Homo sapiens: one gene and its partners. The protein of the gene in region 1 purifies or fractionates together with the protein of each later gene. This does not show direct contact. Each region holds a gene or a part of one and is shown in the gene's direction. Other genes may lie near its edges.

Evidence for each region.
Region 2: the proteins of POP1 (region 1) and EPB41L2 purify together in Homo sapiens (affinity purification with mass spectrometry, with the first as the bait; one large-scale study listed by BioGRID). This does not show direct contact.
Region 3: the proteins of POP1 (region 1) and RBM34 purify together in Homo sapiens (affinity purification with western blotting; one study listed by BioGRID). This does not show direct contact.
Region 4: the proteins of POP1 (region 1) and DDX42 purify together in Homo sapiens (affinity purification with mass spectrometry, with the first as the bait; one large-scale study listed by BioGRID). This does not show direct contact.
Region 5: the proteins of POP1 (region 1) and RCL1 purify together in Homo sapiens (affinity purification with mass spectrometry, with the first as the bait; one large-scale study listed by BioGRID). This does not show direct contact.
Region 6: the proteins of POP1 (region 1) and FAM76B purify together in Homo sapiens (affinity purification with mass spectrometry, with the first as the bait; one large-scale study listed by BioGRID). This does not show direct contact.
Region 7: the proteins of POP1 (region 1) and PPIL4 purify together in Homo sapiens (affinity purification with mass spectrometry, with the first as the bait; one large-scale study listed by BioGRID). This does not show direct contact.

What each region holds. Positions count from the first base shown.
Region 1 is NC_000008.11:98,130,793-98,134,292, forward strand, and holds part of POP1 (ribonucleases P/MRP protein subunit POP1), read left to right. Parts: intron 1-3,156; coding exon 3,157-3,244; intron 3,245-3,500. UniProt on the Homo sapiens protein: Component of ribonuclease P, a ribonucleoprotein complex that generates mature tRNA molecules by cleaving their 5'-ends. Also a component of the MRP ribonuclease complex, which cleaves pre-rRNA sequences.
Region 2 is NC_000006.12:131,056,746-131,060,245, reverse strand, and holds part of EPB41L2 (band 4.1-like protein 2), read left to right. Parts: intron 1-3,500. UniProt on the Homo sapiens protein: Required for dynein-dynactin complex and NUMA1 recruitment at the mitotic cell cortex during anaphase.
Region 3 is NC_000001.11:235,130,683-235,133,966, reverse strand, and holds the end of RBM34 (RNA-binding protein 34), read left to right. Parts: intron 1-1,969; coding exon 1,970-2,254; 3' UTR 2,255-2,784; downstream 2,785-3,284.
Region 4 is NC_000017.11:63,780,670-63,784,169, forward strand, and holds part of DDX42 (ATP-dependent RNA helicase DDX42), read left to right. Parts: intron 1-3,500. UniProt on the Homo sapiens protein: ATP-dependent RNA helicase that binds to partially double-stranded RNAs (dsRNAs) in order to unwind RNA secondary structures. Unwinding is promoted in the presence of single-strand binding proteins.
Region 5 is NC_000009.12:4,834,444-4,837,943, forward strand, and holds part of RCL1 (RNA 3'-terminal phosphate cyclase-like protein), read left to right. Parts: intron 1-3,500. UniProt on the Homo sapiens protein: As part of the small subunit (SSU) processome, it plays a role in 40S-ribosomal-subunit biogenesis in the early pre-rRNA processing steps at sites A0, A1 and A2 that are required for proper maturation of the 18S RNA.
Region 6 is NC_000011.10:95,783,283-95,786,782, reverse strand, and holds part of FAM76B (protein FAM76B), read left to right. Parts: intron 1-508; coding exon 509-664; intron 665-3,500. UniProt on the Homo sapiens protein: Negatively regulates the NF-kappa-B-mediated inflammatory pathway by preventing the translocation of HNRNPA2B1 from the nucleus to the cytoplasm.
Region 7 is NC_000006.12:149,539,544-149,543,043, reverse strand, and holds part of PPIL4 (peptidyl-prolyl cis-trans isomerase-like 4), read left to right. Parts: intron 1-1,457; coding exon 1,458-1,525; intron 1,526-1,612; coding exon 1,613-1,677; intron 1,678-1,984; coding exon 1,985-2,102; intron 2,103-3,500. UniProt on the Homo sapiens protein: PPIases accelerate the folding of proteins. It catalyzes the cis-trans isomerization of proline imidic peptide bonds in oligopeptides.

The sequences.
Region 1 (3,500 bases):
GAATGCTGGTCTAGGTGTTTATGGGTCAGTGGGATGCTGGGAAGGATGTTTTAAATTTTAAACGCTTTGAGAGGACAGATTATGTTAGAGCCTCTTAATAGTATTTATCTGATTGCTCCCTCCTCTCAGAAGCTAATTCAGTTGCTTTCTATTTCTTCCAATACATACTTAGACATTTGTTCTTTGCAGAAGGGCCTATCTTTCAGTGGCAGAATGGCCTTGGCCAAATTTTGAAAGCCATTACTATTGGTGTCCTTTGATACCCCTTGAGAGTAATGTGGTAGAATAAGCAATACAAGAATCTTTTTAAAAAATTGTGGTCAAATATACATAACAAAACCATTTGACCATTTTAAGTGTATAGTTCTGTGGCATTAAGTACGTTTACGTTGTGTAATCAGTACCACCATCCATCTCCAGAACTTTTTTATCCTTCCAAACTGAAACTCTCGACTCATTAAACACTAACTCCCATTCCTTCAGCCCCTGGCAGCCACCATTCTATTGTCTATCCAATAATTTGATCCTATAGGTGCTTCATAGGGGTGAAATCATACAATATTTGTCTTTTTGTGACTGGCTTATTTCATTTAGCATAATGTCTTAAAATTCATCCGTGTTGTAGCATGTGTCAGAATTCCCTTCCCTTTTAAGGCTGAAGATGTATTCCATTGTAGGTATATACCGTATCTTGATTATTCATTTATCTGTCAGTGGACATTTGGCTTACTTCCACCTTTTGGCTATTGTAAATAATGCTGCTGTGAACATGGATATGCAAATATCGTTACAGTCCCTGCTTTCAGTCCTCTTGAATATATCCCCAGAAGTGTAATTGCTGGATCATATGATAATTCTATGTTAATTTTATGTTTAATTTTTTGAGGTACTGCCTTACCATTTTCCATAGCAACTGTATCATTTTACATTCCCACCAGCAATACACAAGGGTTCCAATTTCTCCTCATCCTTTTCAGTACTTGTTACTTTATTTATTTATTTGATCACAGTCATTCTAATGAGTGTGAAGTGAATAAGAGGACCTTTTAGGAGTCTTTGATTTGAGAACTCAGCAGCAGAAATCATAGATAATAGTCAAGTTCCTCATTCACATTGAGGAAGCTGGGTTCTGGAGAGATGAAGTGACTTGCCTGGGCTCACACAGCTTGTTGGTGGCCTACATAGCACTTGGGTGGCTGATTCCCCTGGCTTGTGCTTTTTCCACTGTCCTCTGCCAATGAGTTACTTTTCATTTTGGGCATAATTTTTGCTGAAGTTATCAGATATTTTCTCTAAAATTTGATCAGCCCTAAGTAATAAAACTAATAGCTAATAATAACAAATATTAGTGAGTGCTTAATATATGCCCTACCCTGTTTTAAATGGTTTGCATGTGTTTACTCATTTAATCCTCAGAATAGTACGAAGTAAGGAGTTACCATTATTTCCATTTTACAGATGGGGAAACTGAGGTACAGAGAGGTTAGGTAGTTTACCCATGATTGTATGGCCAATGAGTGTTGAGGTTCAGATTTGAGCCCAGTTGCCTGACTCCAGGGTTCCACACTCTGAACCATTATTCTCTGCTGTCACTTGTTTGGGTGAGGTTCCTCTGGCCACTGACAGCTGAGAGCTGGTCACTGGATGGGAAGATTTCTTTGTGTGAGTGATCATATTGATTGACATGCGTTGTCAGAATCATAGCTATAATTTCCCTTTTAGTTCTAGTTACTGAGTGCACTGAAATTGCTTAAAGATGCTATAGCAGAAGGGTTGGTTTGGCAGATCACTGAGCCTGATTAGAATGCTGGCTTCTCCACTTAATGACTGTGTCTTTGTTCAAGTAACAATCTCTGTGTCACAGTGTCCTTGTCTGTCAGATAAGATAACCATACTAGGTACATCTGGTTGTCAGGAAGACTAAATGACTGTTCATGTAAGGAGTTAACTCATTGCTGGCACTCAGTAACCCTTCAATGACTATTAACTATTATAGGCCAGGCATGGCAGCTCATGCTTAGAATCACAGCATTTTGGGAGGCTGAGGCAGGAGGATTGCTTGAGCCCTGGGGTTCAAGACCAGTCTGGGCAACATAGTGAGACTCTGTCTCTGCAAAAAAAAAAAAAAAAAAAAAAAAATCTGGGTGTGGTGGCTCGTGCCTGTAGTCCCAGCTACCTGGGAGGCTGAGGCAGGAGGATTGCTTGAGCTCTGGGGTTCAAGACCAGTCTGGGCAACATAGTGAGACTCTGTCTCTGCAAAAAAAAAAAAAAAAAAAAAGCTGGGTGTGGTGGCTCGTGCCTGTAGTCCCAGCTACCTGGGAGGCTGAGGCAGGAGGATTGCTTGAGCCCAGGAAGTTGAGACTTCTGTGAGCTGTGATTGCGCCTCTGTACTCTAGCACTGGCAACAGAGTGAGACCCTGTCTCAAAAACAAAACAAACTGTTAGAATTATTATTATAATTATTATTATGGATACTATAACTATTGAAACTTTTAACATTGATTTCATTAGCTTAGTCTGATCTCTCTTCATCTTACTTGAAATTGTATGTTATTACTTTTACTTTCTTTGTACTGTGCTTAAAGTTGCATATCATGGTCAAGACTGAGTATGGGAGAAATATGGGATGGATTAATTGCAATATTGTATCTCTAGGCTTAGTGTTAAGTAATCTTGAGGTCCTGAATTAGCTAACCAAATTGAGCAACCTGAGCATAATTTTGCAGAATTCATTACTGTTTTGCTTATTTTACTCTGGTTTCTTACCTTAGGTAGACTTTGGGGGTGAATGGTTCTCTACTTAGAGGCAACAGTTATGTACCCTCCGTAGAACCTGTCTATGAATATGGGATAAAACATAGATTACCTAAAAAGTAGGATACCGTAACTTACATTTTAAATGGAGATTCATTTTTATTTTGGTTCGGGTTGGTTTAAAAATATTTGTTAAGGTGACAGGAATGGACAGGTTTAGATATTTTTTCCACTAAACCATCGGGCAGGAGAAGGTTTAGATTTTGACTTATGAGAACATAGCTTTAGCAATTTGTTTTGTGTCTTAGGCCTCTAAAGGTTTTGTGATACGGCTTTTGGCTTCTTAGCAGTTTTGCCTGTGTAAATTCCTAAGTACTTAATTGTGTCTCCCGCTTTGTGCAGGATTTATCCTATTACTGTTGTTTGGAGTTGAAAGGCAAAGAGGAAGAAATACTAAAGGCGCTTTCTGGAATGTGTAACATAGACACAGGTAAACTTGTTTTAAAGCTGAGTTCTATTTTAGTCTATGTATATTTATTCATTTCATAAAGAAGTGTCTACTGTAAGCATTTTGGAATTCAAACATATAGAAAAGTGTGTGAGACACTAATCATTCCCAATGAAAATGTTAACTTAAAAACAGTTGGGTTGGCTTTTAAATAATTTCTAACATTGTCAAGTGTAAAGTGATAGAGTCATTTTTCTGGTGGAGTGAACTTGACAGAAAGAAACTTGAAGCTCTCATT
Region 2 (3,500 bases), on another chromosome or scaffold:
ATTTTATATAGCAGAATGCTAAATATTTTTGAAGGTTTTGTTTTGTTTCTGTTTCTACTCTGTCTCTACTAAAAATACAAAAATTAGCCGGGCATGGTGGCGCACGCCTGTAATCCCAGCTGAAGACATGGGCCTTTTTCTTTCTTTTTTGAACTGAAGTAGCCTGTTTAAAAGCTATGTGTGGGCTTTTTATTGAAAAGTGTGAATTGCTACTAGTTTTATAAGGCAAATAAACAGTTTATAGGGATCAATACCACTGAGTCACATTTTGCATTTCTAAAATCTGTGCTGTTTACTTGGAGAAAACAAAAGAAATGTGCCTACCTCCTCCATCCCACCTTTATTTAGAAACATTTCCAGTGGGCTTGTTTTTTTCAGATTCAGAATTACTGTACCTAACCACTGGGTACCCTTACAGATTTCAAAGCCTGAAGTAAATGTTTATGCTGGCTTTCGTAGTCAGCAAATAATAGCCAAACCCTAATTCACTGCTCTTTTATAGAATCTTGGAATCTCAGGGCTGAACCGTTAGGAGTCAGCAGATCCACTCTTAGCCCTAGTCTCTTCCTCTCAACATGCAAACAGTTCTAATGTCTTTGGAATGTCTGAGCAAATAGAAGATTTGTATGCGATTCTGTCACCAATTCTAGACAGAACATCCTTTGGGATGCCATGTTTTGGCATAAACCAGCAACTTGATATTATGAGATTTGTATCATTTCTCTGCGTGGGCAGTGCCCTAGACTAAAATCTAAAATGGAGTCAATGCCTGATGTCATTAACTATAGGGAAATGGCCTCCAAGTTAGCTATTAGAGTTGTTTAGGAATTATAGCTGGGCGCGATGGCTCACGCCTGTAATCCCACCTCTTTGGGAGGCTGAGGCGGGTGGATCATGAGGTCAGGAGATCGAGACCATCCTGGCTAACACGGTGAAACCCCGTCTCTACTAAAAATACAGAAAATTAGCCAGGCGTGGTGGCAGGCATCTGTAGTCCCAGCTACTCGGGAGGCTGAGGCAGGAGAATGGCGTGAACCCGGGAGGCAGAGCTTGCTGTGAGCGGAGATTGCGCCACTGCACGCCAGCCTGGGTGACAGAGCCAGACTCCATCTCAAAAAAAAAAAAAAAAAAGTTATAGGTAAGCCAAGAAGGAAAGAAATAAATAATCTCAGTTATCATCTAGAAATGATTTATAGTTTTTGTTGCTGTTGTTGTTTTTATTTTGTTTTTGAGACACAGTTTCACTCTGTCGTTCAGGCTGGAGTGCAGTGACGTGATCTTGGCTCACTGCAACCTCCGTCTTCCCAGTTCAAGTAATTCTCGTGCTTCAGCCTTCCAAGTAGCTGGAATTACAGGCGTGTGCCACCATGCCCGGCTAATTTTTGTATTTTTAGTAGAGACAGGGTTTCACCATGTTGACCAGGCTGTTCTTGAACTCCTGACCTCAAGTGATCCACCCGACTTGGCCTCCCAAAGTGTTGGGATTACAGGTGTGAGCCACCGCACCCAGCCGGTTTATAGTTATAGCTAATAGATTTTGGTAGCTTTTTCTATAAAGTATGTGTATGTGTGTGTATTTCATATGAGAGAGGGAATATTATAGGTATTTGTGATGTGAAGCACCTACTCATTGTATTTAATAAATATTTGATGAATTAATTCATTGAACCTTTAATATATTAGAGGTGAAGAATCTTTAGTGAAGATTCTTTGATAGAGTTGACATAGAAATGGGTAATGTTTCATGTAGAAATATCATGTCGGTAATGTTTATTTGCTTTTCTAACCACTGATATTGTTTCTCCTGGTTTTGTGGTTGGCTTGGGATCTGTGTTGTAAGTTTCTTAGAGGCATGTTTTTCATGTCTAGGAGAGTAGATAGGCTATATATTTCCATGGTGTTGGGATAGTATTAATTTTAATTAGAATTTCAGAGGCTTTCTGAATTTTCTTATTTTAAAGTGATGTCTCTTACTTCTTGGCATTGGAATAGATTTCATGTGATCTATGAGTGCATTCATACTGCTTCTGGATATTTTTTCTTCAAAGATTGCAATTGAGCTAATTTCATATTCTCAGTTATCTTTAAAATGGAAACATGTTTTCACTTCACAGATACCTCTCTGAATTTTGCATATTTTCACTCTACCTTATTAGAGCCATAAAGTCAAAAAGTACATAGATTGTCTCCCAAATAATCTGGAATAAATTGAAGGATAAGAACAATCTTTCCTGAGATCTGACCTGTATCTTAAATAAGGTTTTGCTTTAGATAGCCAAGTTGAAATTTTGCATAGATAACTAAGTTCGGCATCATGGGGATCATTTTAGTTCTTTCCAGGTTAGGAGGCATGGAAAGGCTCCCAAAGTGGTTTTGTCACTGTTCATCTATCGGACCTTATTGCCTAGGTCAGGTAGGGTAGTTCATGCATTTAAATCAAATCTTTCTGAAGAGACCAGTTTCCTCTTGCTTTGCTCTTAGGGCCTCACCATCAACCTTCATGAAAGAATTTTCAAATACTTAAAAACTTATGTTACCCTTCAGTTGCCTTTTTCCAGGATAATTGTGGTTTTAAAAAGCTTGTCATATAGTTCTGATTACCAACTCTGAAGTCACCTTTTCCAAGCCCTTGTATTTACGTTTCCAGACCTGCTGATGAGCTTCAGGGCTGGGCCATTATAACAACAGTGCTGAATTCACTCATATTTTTCAGAGTTTCCTACATTCTACTGATATATGTACATATCCCAGTAGCTTGAAGACATAAAATTAAAATGTGATTTACACTCTGCCATAATTCTTTGTTTCTTTCTCTTTTTGTCCAGAAGCTACTTGTTTTTCACCCTAGATTCATTTACCTTGAGGGAGATTATTTGGTTCAGACTCCTGACCTGGGGTGGAGAGTGGGGTTCTTGGGCCTCATGGGTGCATAAACTGCCTGAGACTGTAAGTGAGGTATTGTGTTCCCATGTGCATGCACTCCTGTGTGTGTGCAGCATCTCTGTGTGTGTGTGCACAAGTGGATGAGAGAGACAGGTTAAGGGAGAAAGAGAACTTTAGGAGTGGTTTTTGAAAGGGTTTTGGGAAACAGAAAAGATTGAGAACTGATGTTTCAGTTCTTATTTTCGAGATTAGAAGATGGAAGTTTTAAGAGTATTTTGTTTTTCTCTTTTTTTTTAATTTTTTCACCCTATTGCACTTTTCATCATTTATTCTCCCCTATCTCCCATTGTACTTCTTTCCATTCAATTGAATTCATTTAGTTGACCCCCATTTACCTAACTGTCAAGGTTAAACTGAATTCTGATATAATCCTGGCCACTCATATTCTTACCTGTGAACTTAATGAATGTGCATTTATTTCCTTACAAATTTCTTTGATGGAATATTGATTAGAAGGAATCAGTAACATGTCCACTCTATTTGATGCTGGTTAGACTGCCACATATGCCATTGTGACCTTGGGCAAATTATTTCTCAAAGCCTCGTTTGCTGTAGTA
Region 3 (3,284 bases), on another chromosome or scaffold:
TGCTTAAGTACGGGAGGTCAAGGCTGTAGTGAGCCATGATTGCACCACTGCACTCCAGCCGAACTGACAGAGTGAGACCCTATCTCAAAACAAAAAAATAATCTATTGTCATCCCTTGATATCCACGGTGTATTGGTTCCAGGATCCCTCTCACATAGCAAACAGTATATATATATCTGCAGATGCTGAAGTCCCTTATATAAAATGGCACATTTGCATGAATGTATATTGTTATATATAATAAATTTTTTTATTGTCATATTATTTGTTGTTTTCAAGTATTTTCTATCTGCAGTTGATTGAATCCTCTGATACTGAACTCACGGATTTGGGGAGCTGACTGTACATACTATGTGATGTCATAAATTTTTCTTCTCTCAGTAACAACCCATTACTACATTTCCTTTCAGTTTTTCCTTGTGCTGCCATTTTTATAGTTGAACTTGTCTCTGTGAACTTAAATTATATTTACATCTTATTTTATGTTGTTTTCTGTTATGTAAGCATGTTCCATTGAGTGATATAACAGAGTTTATACTGTCATTTCTCTCATGTTGGACCTTGGTAGAATTCTCTGTTTTTCCCTGTAATAATGAAATTGCAGTGGTTATGTGTTTTTTGTTTTTGAGACAGAGTCTCACTCTGTTGCTCAGGCTGGAGTGCTTTGGCACGATCTCAGCTCACTGCAGCCTCTGCCTCCCAGGCTCTAGCGATCCTCCCATCTCAGCTTCCTGAGTAGCTAGGACTACAGGTGTGTGCCACATGTCTGGCTAATTCTTGTATTTTTTTGTAGAGACAGGATTCACCATGTTTCTCAGGCTGGTCTCCAACTTCTGAGCTCAAGTGATCTATCCGCCTTGGCCTCCCAGAGTGCTAGGATTATAGGTGTGAGCTACCCCGCCTGGCCTGGTTATGTTTTTTTCCCCAAAAGTTTGGATTGTAGATTACTTAAGATAGATCCCCATTAGGATATACTAGGTTAAGATGTGTTACCATTTTGAAGACTCTTGATGAGAATTGCCTGGTAGCTTTTTTAGAAAGATTGTCACAGCGTTTGTTGCCATTGTTACTGTATTGTAGTTACCTTTCTGCTTGTCTGCTCCCTTTCTTCTATTACTTGATAAGCTTCTAAAGTCCTTTAACAAACATCTCATGGATATTCAGGGTTGTTAGCATTAATGGCTCTATATTGGAACAGAAGTATAACAGAATTTTGGATCTAAATGGAACCCTAGAGGGTGTCTAGTCCAACATCTCGTAATGGAGCGTTCCCTGCCCTCTGGTCAGCTAATACAATGGGGCTTTGACAGAAAGATGGCTATACGAAGGAGGTTTATTCGTTTAAAATATTGCATATGGGGGCCAGGCGCGGTGGCTCATGCCTGTAATCCCAGCACTTTGGGAGGGCAAGGTGGGCAGATTACAAGGTCAAGAGATCGAGACCATTCTGGCTAACGTGGTGAAACCCTGTCTCTACTAAAAATACAAAAATTAGCTGGGTATGTTGGCCCGCGCCTGTAATCCCAGCTACTTGAGAGGTTGAGGCAAGAGAATCGCTTGAACTCAGGAGGTAGAGGTCACAGTGAGCCGAGATCGTGCCACTGCACTCCAGCCTGGCAACAGAGCGAGATTCCGTCTCAAAAAAAGAAAAAAGAAAAAAAGCCAATATTGCATATGACTAATCTAGTCTAGAACCTCATTTTACAATGAAAAAAAAAAACCACGAAGCCTGTAGCATTGTGACTTAGCTGAACATTTCACAAGGCAGCTTGAGTGCTTTCTGAGGAAACACTGGTGACGAGCATGGTGATGAGGAGACTTCGAGTGCAGCAGCTGATACACCTGGGATTGGATGGGGCTTATCTGTGCAAGCTTGAAAGTCGTTCTCATCTGTTAAAGTGACACTTTCACTAGTTTCTTTGCAGATGGGTTTCTGGTAGCAATTAATGTATTGTGTTTTCTTTTGCAGAATACAGATTCTGTTCATCTTGCTCTGAAATTAAATAATTCTGAACTCATGGGGAGAAAACTCAGAGTCATGCGTTCTGTTAATAAAGAAAAATTTAAACAACAAAATTCAAATCCACGATTGAAGAATGTCAGTAAACCTAAGCAGGGACTTAATTTTACTTCCAAAACTGCAGAAGGACATCCTAAAAGCTTATTTATTGGAGAAAAAGCTGTTCTCCTTAAAACGAAGAAGAAAGGACAGAAGAAAAGTGGACGCCCTAAGAAACAGAGAAAACAGAAATAACAACCAGGAACTGCTTTTTCTTTTCCTGCTGAGTACTGCTAATAAAAGTGCTATTATCTGCTGATAGCATCGTCTGCTATTCATGTGTTGAGTTTTATACTTCTTTATGGATGGTGTATGTGAAATGTGGAGACTTCCACATTCTCAGTTTATTCACATTGTGATACTACCTTTGAAGGTTTTTTTGTTTTTGTTTTGTTTTTTGAGATGGAGTTTGGCTGTTGTCTCCCAGGCTGGAGTGCAGTGGCGTGATCTTGGCTCACTGCAACCTCTGCCTTCTGGGTTCAAGCGCTTCTCCTGCCTCAGCCTCCCAAGTAGCTGGGATTACAGGCGCCTGCCACCACGCCTGGCTAATTTTTTGTATTTTTAGTAGAGACGGGGTTTCACCATGTTGGCCAGGCTGGTCTCGAACTCCTGACCTCAGGTGATCCACCTGCCTTGGCCTCTCAAAGTGCTGGGATTACAGGCGTGAGTCACTGCACCCAAGCCTCCTTTCTCTTTTGCCTATTAAACCTCTGCTCTTAACCTTACTCCGTGTGTGCTCAAGTTCTTGATTTCCTTGGCATGAAGCAATGAACCTTGGGTATTACCCCAAACGATGTCGCTTCAGTATCTCACTTTGTTGCCCAGGCTGCTCTCAAACTGCTGGACTCAAGTGATCCTCCCACCTTGGCCTCCCAAAGTGCTAGGATTACAGGAGTGAATCACTCATCAATTCCAAGGGGCTAGAACTCCCAGGAACTGGGGACAAAGGCCAGCCAAATTCTTTATTATGCAACCTCGTGTTACTGGAAAAGGATCCAGATCCAGACCCCAACAAAGGGTTCTTGGATCTTGCCTAAGAAAGAATTTGGGGCCAGTCCACAGAGTAAAGTGAAAACAAGTTTATTAAGAAAATAAAGAAGATCACTCACGGTGGCTCATGCCTGTAATCCCAGCACTTCGGGAGGCCGAGGTGGGTGGATCACCAGATGTCAGGAGTTTGAGACTAGCCTGGCCAACATGGTGAAACCCCATCTCTACTAAAAAT
Region 4 (3,500 bases), on another chromosome or scaffold:
AAGGATCGCTTTTCCAACTTGCTAAGTCTTGAGAGCCAGTAAGCAACCCTCACCTGCCCAAGGTCTCACTGCCTGCCTGTTTGTGGCAGGAGTTGATTTGCTGCTTTTGTAATATGAACCTTTTGATTATTTAATAGGGCTGATTCATAGTCATGTTTGTTCTTTTCACTCCTTCCCTCTAGCTTTGGGGGAAGAGTGAGTTACTCCTGTTGTTAAAAGTTTTGATTGTGTCTGGTCTTCTCTGGAAATCCTATGACTTTTTTCTGTCATTTTGCATCTTCAGTTTTTCAGACTTTACTGGTTTTTCCCCTTTAGCATATAAACATGCCTATGTTTCTTTAAAAAATAAAATTTCTGTAGGTAATGCTTCACTTTCTCCTTCCTATCATTGATAAACAGCCTACAAAGTACTCTTGACTCCTCTTGACCTAGTCTTCATCTTCTACTACTTACTTGCCAGGTACTCCTCAACCCTGTCCCTACTGCTCCATTGAAACTGCTTTCACTGATGACTCCTGGTTGCCTATACAACAGAAGAATTTTAGTTCTTTTTGTTTTGTTTTTTTGAGACAGAGTCTCGCACTCTCGCCCAGGCTGGAGTGTAGTAGCCGGATCTTGGCTCACCGCAAGCTCTACCTCCCAGGTTCATGCCTTTCTCCTGCCTCAGCCTCCTGAGTAGCCGGAACTACAGGTGCCCGCCACCACGTCCGGCTAATTTTTTGTATTTTTAGTAGAGATGGGGTTTCACCGTGTTAGCCAGGATGGTCTTGATCTCCTGACCTTGTGATCCGCCTGCCTTGGCCTCCCAAAGTGCTGGGATTACAGGCGTGAGCCACCGTGCCTGGCACATTTTAGTTCTTAACTTACCTAACTTCTCTTTAGTTTTCTGCCTATAGAGCTTCTTTCTCCTCACCCGTGTTCCTCCTTGTCTCCCCTTCCTTCTTTCCCCCTCTTCTTTCTTTCCCTTCCCCAATCCCTGTTCCATCTGAAGTTTCCATGTAAGCTTCTCTTTTTCTGCCCATTCCTAAATAGTGATATATGTTAAGAATTGTCTTACTGGGCCGGATGTGGTGGCTCACGCCTGTAATCCTAGCACTTTGGGAGGCCGAGGCAGGTGGATCACGAGGCCAGGAGATCGAGACCATCCTGGCTAACATGGTGAAACCCCGTCTCTACTAAAAATACAAAAAATTAGCCGGGCCTGGTGGCAGGTGCCTGTAGTCCCAGCTACTGGGGAGGCTGAGGCAGGAGAATGGTGTGAACCCGGGAGGCAGAGCTTGCAGTGAGCCGAGATTGTGCCACTGCACTCCAGCCTGGGCGACAGAGTGAGACTCCGTCTCAAAAAATAAAAATAAAAAAAGAATTGTCTTACCAGCTGGGCGCAGTGGATCACGAGGTCAGGAGTTTGAGACCAGCCTGGCCAACATGGTGAAACCTGTCTCTACTAAAAATACAAAAATTAGCTGGGCACGGTGGTGCGTGCTTGTAATCCCAGCTACTCGGGAGGCTGAGGCAGGAGAATTGCTTGAACTCAGGAGGCGGAGGTTGCAGTGAGCCAAGATCATGCCATTGCCCTCCAGCTCTGGGCGACAGAGCAAGACTCCGTCTTGGGGAGAAAAGAAAGAATTGTCTTACTTCTTTTCTCACTCTGCATGGTCTCTCTGCTAGCTTATTTACATCAGTAACCTCAAATGCAAATGGCTTACATCAAATCTATAGCTCACTCCGGACCCCTCTCTGCAGTTACTGCCCCTGCTTGGCATCTCTACTCAGCTCTCTCATAGATACTGAACTCACCTTTTGCCTAATTTTGCAAACCTGGCTCTTTTAGGTTTCCATCTCCATTAGTGGCTCCACAGTTCACCCAGTCTTTAAAGCCAGAAACTTCTGAAGTTATTCTAGACTCTTCTTCCTTAGCTTCCACACCAATTACTGGTCACACAATCCTAATTGATCTTTCCTCAGATATCTAAATAAATAACTCAGATCCATCCCCCGTTTCTCCTTTCCCACAGGTGCTTTCTTAGTTCAGAATTTTGTCGCTTTATACCTGCGTTGCTGCAACAGCCTTCTACTTTCCTTGCCTCTACCATGAGTATCTCTCATTCTGTCTTTCAAAAACACTGATCTGAAAATTTCCCTTCTGTGTAAAATTAACGATTCTTTGTAGCTGGCAGAATACAGTTTTGTATGGTACGTCGTTAGCATAGCCTTCTAAGCTGTTCATCTTGGCCCTACCTGTCTTTCTGAACATGTGTCCTGCAAATTTCCCAAATGTGCTACTGAACTCTAGCTGCACTGAACTATTTCTTGTTCTCTGTGGTAACACTTAACAGATCCTTCCATCTGAAATGCCCTTCTTTAATGCCTCTTTGATCTAATGCCTCTTGAGGTTTCAAAATTTAACATGTCATCTCTCAGAACACTTCTATGCCTTTGCTCCCACTCATGGACCACCAGTGAATGCACTCTGTATAGTACGTCTGTTAGAACGCATCATGTTGTTTTCAGCTGCCTCAGACTGCACTGTCTACTCCTTGAGAACAGGGACTGTATCTTTCATGTATGAATGCCTAGCACATCATATACCACCTGACCTTCTCAGCAAGCTTTCAGTAAACCATTGAAAGTTTTCCTGCTAGGAGATTGTGTGATTCTTAAAATCCACCTGAACGTAAATGTCTTTCCACTATCCTTTCTTTGCCTTCTCATCCTTATGGCTTATTAGCTCCTTGTTATACATTGTATACACTAGGAAAAATGAGATTAAAATTGAGCCCATCCTTTTTGTTGCTTGGGAACACCTCTTGTAAAGATAGCTTATAGATTAGTTTAAAAACGTCAGATGCTGAAATTTTCTTGCTTGTAAAGATTCTTACTAAATTTCATCACACTGGAATTACGTTGATTCCTTGATTGAAGGAATCCCCTTATGGGATTCCGAAAGACAGCAGGAGATGAAGTTCAGGTAAATTAGTACTTACTAAATACATACCTTAGTCATTCTCACTGTTAGAGAAGGAAGTCCAAAATGAGTAAAGACAGTTTCTATCTGGAGTTAAGGGTCTAAGTAGAGATTGATGTAGTGTAATTCAAGTTTAATACTAAGCAGCCTGGGTGCCGTGGCTCACACCTGTAATCCCAGCACTTCGGGAGGCCAAGGTGGTTGGATTGATTGAGGTCGGGAGTACAAGACCAGCCTGCCTAACATAACGAAACCCCATCTCTACTAAAAATACAAAAAATTAGCTGAGCCTGGTGGCACACGCCTGTAATCCCAGCTACTCGGGAGGCTGAGACAGGATAATCACTTGAACCATGGAGGCAGAGGTTGCAGTGAGCTAAGATTGTACCACTGCACTCCAGCCTGGGAGGCAGAGTGAAACTCTGTCTCCCAAAAAAACAAACAGACAAACAAAAACCTTAAAACTAAGCAAACAACTAAGTGCTGTGTATAATAGCAGTTGAACAAAACCTATGAAGTATATATAGACAAGGGG
Region 5 (3,500 bases), on another chromosome or scaffold:
CACCATGACTAGATTGATTGAGTCATTCTTTTTTTTTTTTTTTTTTTAATTTTCCGGTTAACATTTAGGCAAATGGCTCTGATGTATGTGATCCTCTCTCAAGGGCTTTGGTTTGGGGGCCATGAATATACTGCAGTTCCTCCCTCAGAAGACGTCATCATTCGGTGAAGGAACCAAATATGAAAACACACAGTTCTGATATAACATGCAAAATGATATGTGCAGTGGGGTGGGGGCCTGGAGTAGACAGTGGTCAATTTTGTCTGGAGGACCTAGGGAGGCTGGAGTAATCATAATGAATGATATCTACTATTAAGTATTTACTCTGCATCTACTTCAGTAGTCACTTTACATGCTTTTAAGCCTCACATTGACCCTTGAGTTCACTTACATCCTTTTTTGCAGATGGGGAAACTGAAGCTTCAAAAGCTTAAGGAATTTCTTAATAATGTCACACTGCTAATAATGACAGAGCTAGGATTTGAACCTGGTCTGTGTGACTCTAAAGTACAGGCATTTAATTTTTACTTTTGCCTATAGAAAGGAGCCTTGAAGAACAGAGGATTGCAAAGTAGAGCAAGAAAGGAGGAGGGCTTCAGGCAGAAAAGTGGGCCTGAGCAGAGGTGGCAGTGCACAGTGGTTCTAGGGAGTGGCAAGTAATGAAGTGTGGCCAGATTTCAGGTTGGTCTATGGCATTTGATGGTAGAATGGGGCATGAAGACAGGCAGGGGCCAGTGAAGAGCTGAAGGTGGCTGGAATCAGATACTATGCAGAACGCAAAGAAAGGAGGGTGGAACCCTGTGAGGCCACCAAAACTTGAAAGCAAGAGTTAAGTAAGGAGGGAAGTAAGAGTGGGGAAGAGAATAAACAAAACATAGCTTCCTGGAAGCTCAGGTCAGCACTTTAAAAGGCCCTGAGGAGTTAGCATTGGGGTGGGGGAAAAGCTGAGGGACTCAGCAGCAGGCTGTCACTGATGCCCTGGGGAAGAGTGCTGGATCCCTATCCCAAGGGACTAATTCTGGGTTGTGGAGTGAAGGGGAGGGAAACAGCGGCTTGTGGGGACCACTCTTTACAGAACCTTGACAGGAAAGAGAAGGAGAAGGAAGGATGAGGGAGTAACTTGATGAAGCGAGAGTCAGGGAGACTCCCTCCCTTTTACAAAAAGATTGGTAAGGATTTGAGTGTTTTTGTAGGTTGTTAATGTAGATGAAGCAAAGTAATGAGCTGATTAAAAGCCCAGGTGCTGGAGTCAGAAAGACGTGGGTGCCGACGCCGGCTGCGCCACTTACCAATGGAAGCATTTGGCCGTAAGCCTTGGTTGCCCGTATATCTTTAGTCCTGTTATAACTGCTGTGCGAGACTGTCATGAAGGTAAAATGAGATCGTAGTTGCACAGTAGGAGGCACTGGTGTGTAAGTAGCATTGGGTAAATGGTTACTACTATTCTTTTTATTCTTACTTGAGAGGGGATGGATTCAAGGCCACAGGCATACGGTAAGGGTGGCTCCAGGTAGAGCTGTGTGGAGGTGAGTGGAAGGGGGTTGGGATGAGTTTTCAGTTGTTACCGAGTTAGGATGGGATTGAGGGTAAGGGGATGGGCGGGGTAGGATAAGAGAGTGTGACAAGGATGGTAAAGATGTGCCTTCACAGGGGAGCATCATAACTGAAGATAAGAAAAAGGCTGTGTTCCAGCAGTAAGGTCCTTGCTGAAGGTGTAATGTTAACACAGTGCCAGCTGCATGGCCATGTGGCTATATCCAGTGGCAGTTGGCAGCCTAGAGGGAGGAGTAGAGAACGTGGGAGGACCAATTTCATCCAAGGTTGGATGCAGGTTGGCAAGGTGGGTGGGTCCTACAGGAGGACAGTTGGAGGGTGGGTGCTGGAGCATTGGGAAGTACATTCCTCACTGAGGATTGTCACAGGGGCTCACCAGCCTGGACAAAGCAGGTCAAGGGATGAGAAACTTTAACAGGCTTAAAGATCAGATCTAGTGGAAATAGATACATGTACTGTGTAGGACAAGAGATTGTGTTTAGGGAGTTTTGTTTTGGGATTTCAGATATTAAAAGTGGTAAAATTCTAGGTGCTGACAGGATCTGGGTGGGAGCAGGTGTTGGAGGCCGTAGAGCAAGACAGGCTGTGGGATGACTTTCCTGGCGGGAGTGTGACAAGGAGGGCAGACCAGAAAGCCTGCTTGTCAGGGCGGGGGTGGGTGCTTAAGGTCGGGTTTTGTGTTCTCAGGAGGTTTGGCAATGGTATTACTTGGAGGAAGAAAGGTGTAGCGTGGACTGTCTTTTCAGAGGCCTCGAATAGCTTGAACAGTAAGTGGTGAAGGGCAGGGAGTAGGGTGGGCTGCAGAGCCATGTGCAGAGAGAGTGCTGGTTAAGATAGAAGCTCAAACTTGGGTTGCTGCCTGAAGTTCTTTTTAAGGATCATCAAAACCACAGGAATACATAATAACAAAGCCTTCCTGGGTTATGGTCTGTTCTCTGCATGGCTGTCCCCCAGCCCATGTAAGCGCCCAGCCTTGTGTGTACCAGGAGAGAACAGGCAAAAGGAGAAATGGTTCCTTTCCTAGGAGCCCCCAGGTTGATGCATAGTTACATTGCCCAGGTGACTTTCTAAGGTGATATTCAACTCTAGTATCCAAATCCGAGGAGCTGGAATAAGGTTAATTAGGTTACAAAGAAATGGAAATGCAATGTAACTAGGTGTGTGTTTTTGAAACCAAATGTGCCTTTTCTACTTGAATTCATTCTTATTAACAGATGCATTGTATTCCACCATATATAGAACCCAAAATCAAATCCTGTTGATGGCCATTGAGTTGTTTTTTGCTTTTCACTGTTGCCAAATACACTGCGGTTAATGGCTTTAACCACAACATTTTTGGCAATGGTGAAAAAAAGTGTAATAAGTGTATAGGAATACACTTTCCAATACATTCCAATAAGTGTACAGGAATACACTTTCAGTACTATTTTGGGTTTGTCTGGGGGGTAGTTGTTTTTTTTCCTCCTTATTTGAGATGTGTTTCCTTAATGCTGTATTGGCGGCCGTGAACTTTGTTTGGAATCCAGTCTCTGTAGTCTGGAAATGTGATTTCTGGCAGTGTGCTCTGTTTTGACACAATCTTGTCATAACAACATGGGTTTCATCACAGTGGGGTCCCCCTTGTTCTCTCTGGGTGTGCAGATGGTCGTGTCCTTTGATGATGATGCTGGGAAATGGGGAAGGGCTTTCCAGGGGAGAACATAAAAGTTAAAAGAGCTGTAGTGCCGGGCACCTTGGGTGTAACTATGTTCCTCCCTGGCTTCTCCCTCTAATGTTCTTGGAACCTTCCCTGTGTAGAATCTGAGCCAGGAAGAGACTTGTGAGGTCCCAAGTTCCTCCCTCCCTGGAGGCAGGGGATAGGACATGGAAATCATCCCCAATATATCTCTGACTGGTTGAGGCTTCCTCCTGGCTCCCCAGGAGAGTTGACACAGTGCCCTTTCTCA
Region 6 (3,500 bases), on another chromosome or scaffold:
TTTATAGTTTATGTTGAATATGCTTGTTCTCATTTTTTCAAAGTTGAAAACTCACAGTATATATTCCTTATATGATTTGTACCTATATGTGATGAAAAGTTAACATTTTCTAAATAAATGATATGGTCATTAAGGTAACTAGGATATTAGTAGAAGGACGTTTCCTCAAATTCTTGATTCATGAGACTTCTCTACATATGTACCTTTATTTTCGTTCTTTAAAACCTTTTTTATGTGTAGTTTTTGTATTATCTAACAGACTATGCAAATCACAAATCTATTTCTCACGATCTTAGAGTAATAGTTACATGACTAGAAATAAATACTAGTTGAATGCATAGAAATATGGTATAAAAGTTATTGCATGTGACAGGGCAACAAACTTGACAGAAAACAAATTTTTTACCTGAGTTTTCTTAATTCCAGAAATATGTCTACAACACTGGGTATATGCTATGCCGCAAATATTTAATGTTTTTAAAAGTCTCAAAATGTGTATGTTTTTCAGCCCAAGCCTTGTCAGTACTGTAACATAATTGCAGCATTTATTGGTACCAAGTGTCAGCGTTGCACAAATTCAGAAAAAAAGTATGGACCACCTCAGACCTGTGAACAGTGCAAACAGCAATGTGCTTTTGATCGGAAGGAGGAAGGAAGAAGAAAGGTATGCTTTATTTATGTTATGACATCTTCTGGAAATTAAATAAAATGCCAAACAAGTTGGAAATTATAATTAATACACTACTGAGACTGGATCTATTCTTTAGGTCCATGAAAGCAAGTAGTTAGATGAAAGTGCAGGAATAGTGAGTTTTCTCTTTGTTTGCATGATACATAGATTCATGTACTATACTTTAAAAAATATTCTATGGTGGCTATTCTGTACTAGTTGGCTATCCCACATTTGGTTCAGGAGATTTAACTAATTGCTTAAATATCTCCTTTTACTTTACCCTTTTGCTAGTTACTTGACATCACTGGTGTGAAAAAAATACCTGATGGCACATTGGCACATAAAATTCAGTTACTCTTGTGCCTTTTGATAAAGGCTCATATTTGAAACTGTTGTTTGTTTTTGTCTACCTGCAGTGACTTAATGTAATAAGTATTTGTGTTCATGTGATAATTCCTTTGCCGATCAGCATTCACACAGGCCTCCTGTTGCCTATCAATTTTAGTTGATTTGGAGAATGACTACCTCTTTGAGGGGCTTCCTCAGGTCTCCCCACAGCAATGTACATATCCCATTATAAGACATGTCCCTCCAGCATGTCTGGTACATAAACATCATGGAATACTATGGATGGAATACATGTGAACAAACAGAAGATAAAAACTTGGTTTTATTTTTAGAGGTTTAGTCAGTACTTCTGGAAAGTCTCTTCTTTGACACAGGTACGATTGATTCTCATTATTTGTGGTAGTTCTTTAAAGTTCCCACAAAACAGTGAATACGGTAGTACCCACCTTATCCATGGGAGATACCTTCTAAGACCAGTGGATGCCTGAAACTGGGGATAGTAACGAACCTTACTGTGTTTTCTCCTGTACATACGTGCCTATGATAAAGTGTAGTTTTTAAATTAGGTATAACAGGAGACTAATAAAAATAATAACAAAATAGAACAATTATATTAGCATACCCTAGTTACAGTTATATGAATGTGGTCTTTATCCCTTAGAATAGTGTATTGTATGTAATATTTTTAGACTAAGGTTGACTATGGGTAACTAAAACTGTAGATAGGGGAGTACTGTATTGAAGCATTGCCCAAGAGAAATATAGGATTAAGTTCACATTTCCAGTAATAACATGTTGGTCAGTTGATCAATATATAACCTTATTTTGTTTGTGTTCCTGTTTGAAGATATCTCATTTAATGTATACTGTCGATTGGCCAGGCATGGTGGCTCATGCTTGTAATCCCAGCACTTTGGGAGGCTGAGGTGGGTGGATCATAAGGTTAGGAGATCGAGACCATCCTGGCTAACACGGTGAAACCCCGTTTCTACTAAAAATACAAAAAATTAGCTGGGCATGGTGGCAGGCACCTATAGTCCCAGCTACTCAGGAGGCTGAGGCAGGAGAATGGCGTGAACCCGGGAGGCGGAGCTTGCAGTGAGCCAAGATTGCGCCACTGCACTCCAGCCTGGGCGACAGAGACTCCGTCTCAAAAAAAAAAAAAAAATTGTGTGTGTGTGTGTGTGTGTATATATACACACACACACTGTCGATTAATTTAATTGCACTCATGGCCAACAGTGCTAAGAGTGCCTGAACATAACTTATGTAACACACATATTTTCTCTTTAAGACACATCACAGCCTTCGTAGCTTTCCTTTTTTTAAGTTCAGGGGTACATGTGCACGTTTATTATATAGGTAAACTTGTGTCATGGAGGTTTGTTGCACAGATTATTTCATCACCCAGGTATTAACCCTAATACCTATTAGTTATTTTTCCTGATTCTTTCCCTCTTCTACCCTCCACCATCTGATAGGCCCTAATGTGTGTTGTTCCCCTCAGTGTGTCCATGTGTTTTCATCCTTTAGTTCCTGCTTATAAGTAAGAACATGCAGGATTTGGTTTTCTGTTCTTTTGTCAGTTTGCTAAGGTTAATGGCCTCCAGCTCCATCCATATTCCTGGAAGGGACATGATCTTGTTCTTGTCTATAGCTGCATAGTATTCCATGGTATATACGTACCATGTTTTCTTTATCCAGTCTACTAACGATGGGCATTTAGGTTGATTCCATGTCTTTGCCATTTCACATTACAACCTTCTTGAGCCTAGGAACACTATACAGCACTTTGGCAGTACTCTTTGGGACTATAAAAACTTGAAAAACATGGCACTAAACAGACTGTGAAAAGGATACTTGTCTGAGAGGTGAAATAAATGAGGCAGAGCATCACCTTGTTCCACCTCAGCTGAGAATGTGTGCTATTGGGTGGCACAGATTTTTCACCACTCTTGTGTATGTGTGCAGTGGCCACAAAAGTGCTACAAGTCTTGATTTTTGGGTTACAGATACATTTTACTAGGTAGGCAAATACACGAATAGGAAATGCAAGAATAATGAGAAGCAACTCTGTGTGTCATTTAGATGCTTCTGTTTTTCTGTAAATTTACAGTACTTACTGTAGTGAAAAATTATTAGTAATGACACAGCGATATAAGAATTCAGGCTATATTTCTTGGAAGTATATCAGTCAGTTTATGCTTATTCTCCTGGAATAAGAAAAAAGGTAACATTTTCTTTTTCTTCAAATTAAAAATGCTTCAAAACTGATGTCATCCTCATCAGTTTTATAATTCTCCTAACAAGTATTTTCTCAAGTTTCAGAAAAGTCCAGTTTTATTTCTGTTTTGCAGAAAATCCGTGAATATGTGCATACATGCATTTGTGCATGTTACGTGTGGAATATAGGTGGAAGTTGAGTGGTTTATCTTACCTGGTTTCGTTTACAGCCAGTTTATATGGGTACATTTAATTT
Region 7 (3,500 bases), on another chromosome or scaffold:
TGCCTAAATTCATTATTTTTGTTTCTAGTAAAAGGACCACCCCTATCTGTTAAACATGAAGCCCAGAAATATATTCAAGAAAAACAACTGCAAGACTGATATTCAGCACTCTTCAACAGCTCAGCCCCATCTTATCTCTCCAGTCTTTTCATGCTCTATTACTGTGTAATACCAGACTATTACAGAACTTTGGTGTTTTGGACCTCCCCTAAAACATTTAAATTTCCACTTCCAGGCCTTTTCATAGTCTTCCAGACCTAAAATGCTCACCCTTCACTCTCTGCTAGTCCAGTTCTTTTAATGCTTGCCTTAACCTTCCCTGAGGTTTTCTAATTTCCCTAGCCAGAAACAATCTTTTGAACTCTTGTGGAATTTTTAAAACTACTTTTTTTACCATTTTAAATAAGTGGCACACATGTTATTAATTAGATATGCCCAGTATGTAACTACTTGTGTTCAGATGTAAGGACCCTAATTTAATGTAAGCTTTTTGAGGGCAGGGATTGCCTCATATATCTTACTGTCTGTTTGGTTTCTAACTTAGTGCCTTAAGAGCTTGTTAATGTGTCTTTCCACGACTAGACTGTGAACTTTTTGGGAGCAGGGACCACAGTTTAATGGCATTTGTGATGGCAGTGTCAGGCATCTAGAAGGTACTCAGTAAATGTTTATTGGATAAGCAGATTAACTTGTATGAGAAAGGTTGTTCATAAGTGTATGGATTTTTATAAAGGGCTGTTTAACTATTATTTAAAAAATGACCCCGGGTGTTTGACTTTTTCCTAATTGATATAATCCGTATCCATTTTTATATATTCTGCTAGATCCTTTTCTACTACAATATGCTCTTTAAGTGTTCTTTTTTCTCGTAATAAAATCAATCCATCAGTAAATGATTGCTTATAAGTGTCAGTTTTCTGTATTAGCCCAGATGCCCCAAAACTCCTATTAAAGGAAAAAAAAAGGTAATTTAAAATGTTTTTTTTCTAGACTTATTGCCCTTTTATTTTATTTTATTTTATTTTATTTTGAGATAGAGTCTTGCTCTATTGCCCAGACTGGAGTGCAGTGGTGCGATCTTGGTTCACTGCAACCTCCACCTCCTGGGTTCAAGTGATTCTCCTGCCTCAGCCTCCCTAGTAGCTGGGATTACAGGTGCCCGCCACCATGCCTGGCTAATTTTTTTTGGTATTTTTAGTTGAGACAGGGTTTCACCATATTGGCCAGGCTGGTCTCAAACTCCTGACTTCAAGTGATCCACTCACCTCCGCCTCCCAAAGCGCTGCGATTACAGGTGTGAGCCAGCGCCCGGCCTATTGCCCTTTTTTATAGCTTTGGACATTTGACTTTTTTTTTCTTTTAATAGTAATTTAGAAATTACATTTTACTGTGGCTTTACTTATTTAAAAATGTGTTTGTGGATTACTGTGATAAATTTGGTATTTACTTTCTTTCAGCCTGCTTGAATTTCTTGAAACTGTGCAAAATAAAATATTACAATTATTGCCTTATTCACAATGTACAGGTGAGTTGGTAGATATTAGTCATTTCCTTTGTTATTGGAACTATCTAACAAACTCTGTGAATTAACAAAGAATCCTACATATTACAGAGGGATTTTATCATACAAACTGGCGATCCTACAGGGACTGGCCGTGGAGGAGAGTCTATCTTTGGGTAAGTTGTTTTATTTATTTATTTATTTATTTATTTATTTATTTATTTACTTTTAACCTCTGGAAGGGCAGAACAAATTCTTTTATTCTTAAATGAGGAAAAATATAATTGCTCATGCTTCAATCTGCATTTTAAAATATGGTTTAAATTTAGATTTTTTCCCCCAAGTTCCCTAAAAAAAAAAAAGTAATATTTTGAATTCTGTTGGCATTTCTGTAAAGAAATAATTGATAACCCTGTATGTTACTAGTACTTCTGTATTTCATTTTGAGAGTACTTACATTTATAACCTTATATGTTTTTTCAGCCAACTGTATGGTGATCAAGCAAGCTTTTTTGAGGCAGAAAAAGTCCCAAGAATTAAGCACAAGAAGAAAGGCACAGTGTCCATGGTGAATAATGGCAGTGATCAACATGGATCTCAGGTTAGGAAATGAGTAAGAATATGAGATTTGCTTAGAAATGAAGGACTGGAAGGAGCCCACAGAGTTATTTTTTAAACTATCCAGTAAGGCTTAGAGGGTTTCAATCAGAAATATGTGTTAGGGGAAAAAATGCACTTTTTCTATATTAAAAAATATTATTTTCTTCTTTTAAATGTAAAGCATTCCTATTGTGAAGAATTGAGAAAATACAGAAAAGTACAAAGAAAAACATTACCTACAACTCCACCATCCGTGATTATCACTGTTCACATTTGTGGCTCATTTTTCAGTATTTCTTTTTATTTAATTAATTAATTTATTTTTATGAGATGTAGTCTCACTCTGTCTCCCAGACTGGAGTGCGATGGCACAATCCTCGGCTCACTGCAACCTCTCCCTCCCGGGTTCAAGCAATTCTCCTGCCTCGGCCTTCCGAATAGCTGGGATTACATGCGCCTGCCACAACACCTGGCTAATTTTTATATTTTTAGTAGAGACGGGGTTTCACCATGTTGGCCACGATGGTCTCAATCACGTGACCTCATGATCCGCCTGCCTTGGCCTCCCAAAGTGCTGGGATTACAGGCGTGAGCCACCGCGCCTGGCCGTTTTTCAGTATTTCTTACTTTTTTAAAAACATTACGCAGAGTACCTTCTATTCATTGTCTTGTTTAATTCTCCCAATGACCCTGTTAATTCTCCCAATGACCTACTTGTTAGAGTAGGTACTTCTGTTTTCTACTATATACACATGAAGTTGAGTCATGGCTTGTCTAAGTATTTTGTTTTATTTTATTTTATTTTATTTATTTAGAGACAGAGTCTTGCTCTGTCAGCCAGGCTGGAGTGCAGTGGTGTGATCTCGGCTCACTGCAACCTCCGCCTCTCAGGTTCAAGCGATTCTCCTGCCTCAGCCTCCCGAGTAGCGGGATTACAGATGCCCACCACCACGCTCGGCTACTTTCTGTATTTTTCGTAGAGACAGGGTTTTGCCATGTTGGCCAGGCTGGTCTCAAACTCTTGACCCCAGGTGATCCACCTGCCTTGGCCTCCCAAAGTGCTGGGATTACAGGTGTGAGCCACCGTGGCCGACCAAAAAATACTTTATTACTAACAAGTGCTTCTGATCATCTGAGCCTTCAGTAAATCATAATCTTTTTGCTGGTGAAGGGTCTTGCCTTGATGTTGATGGCCGTTGACTAATCTGGGTGGTGATTGCTGAAGGTTGGGGTGACTGTGGCAGCTTCTTAAAATAAGACAACTGACTGGCGTGGTAGCATACATCTGTAATCCCAGTACTTTGCGGGGGCAAGGCAGGCAGATGGGTTGAGCTCAGGATTTCGAGACCAGCCCAGGAAACATGGTGAAAACCCCATCTCCACAAAAAAATACAAAAAT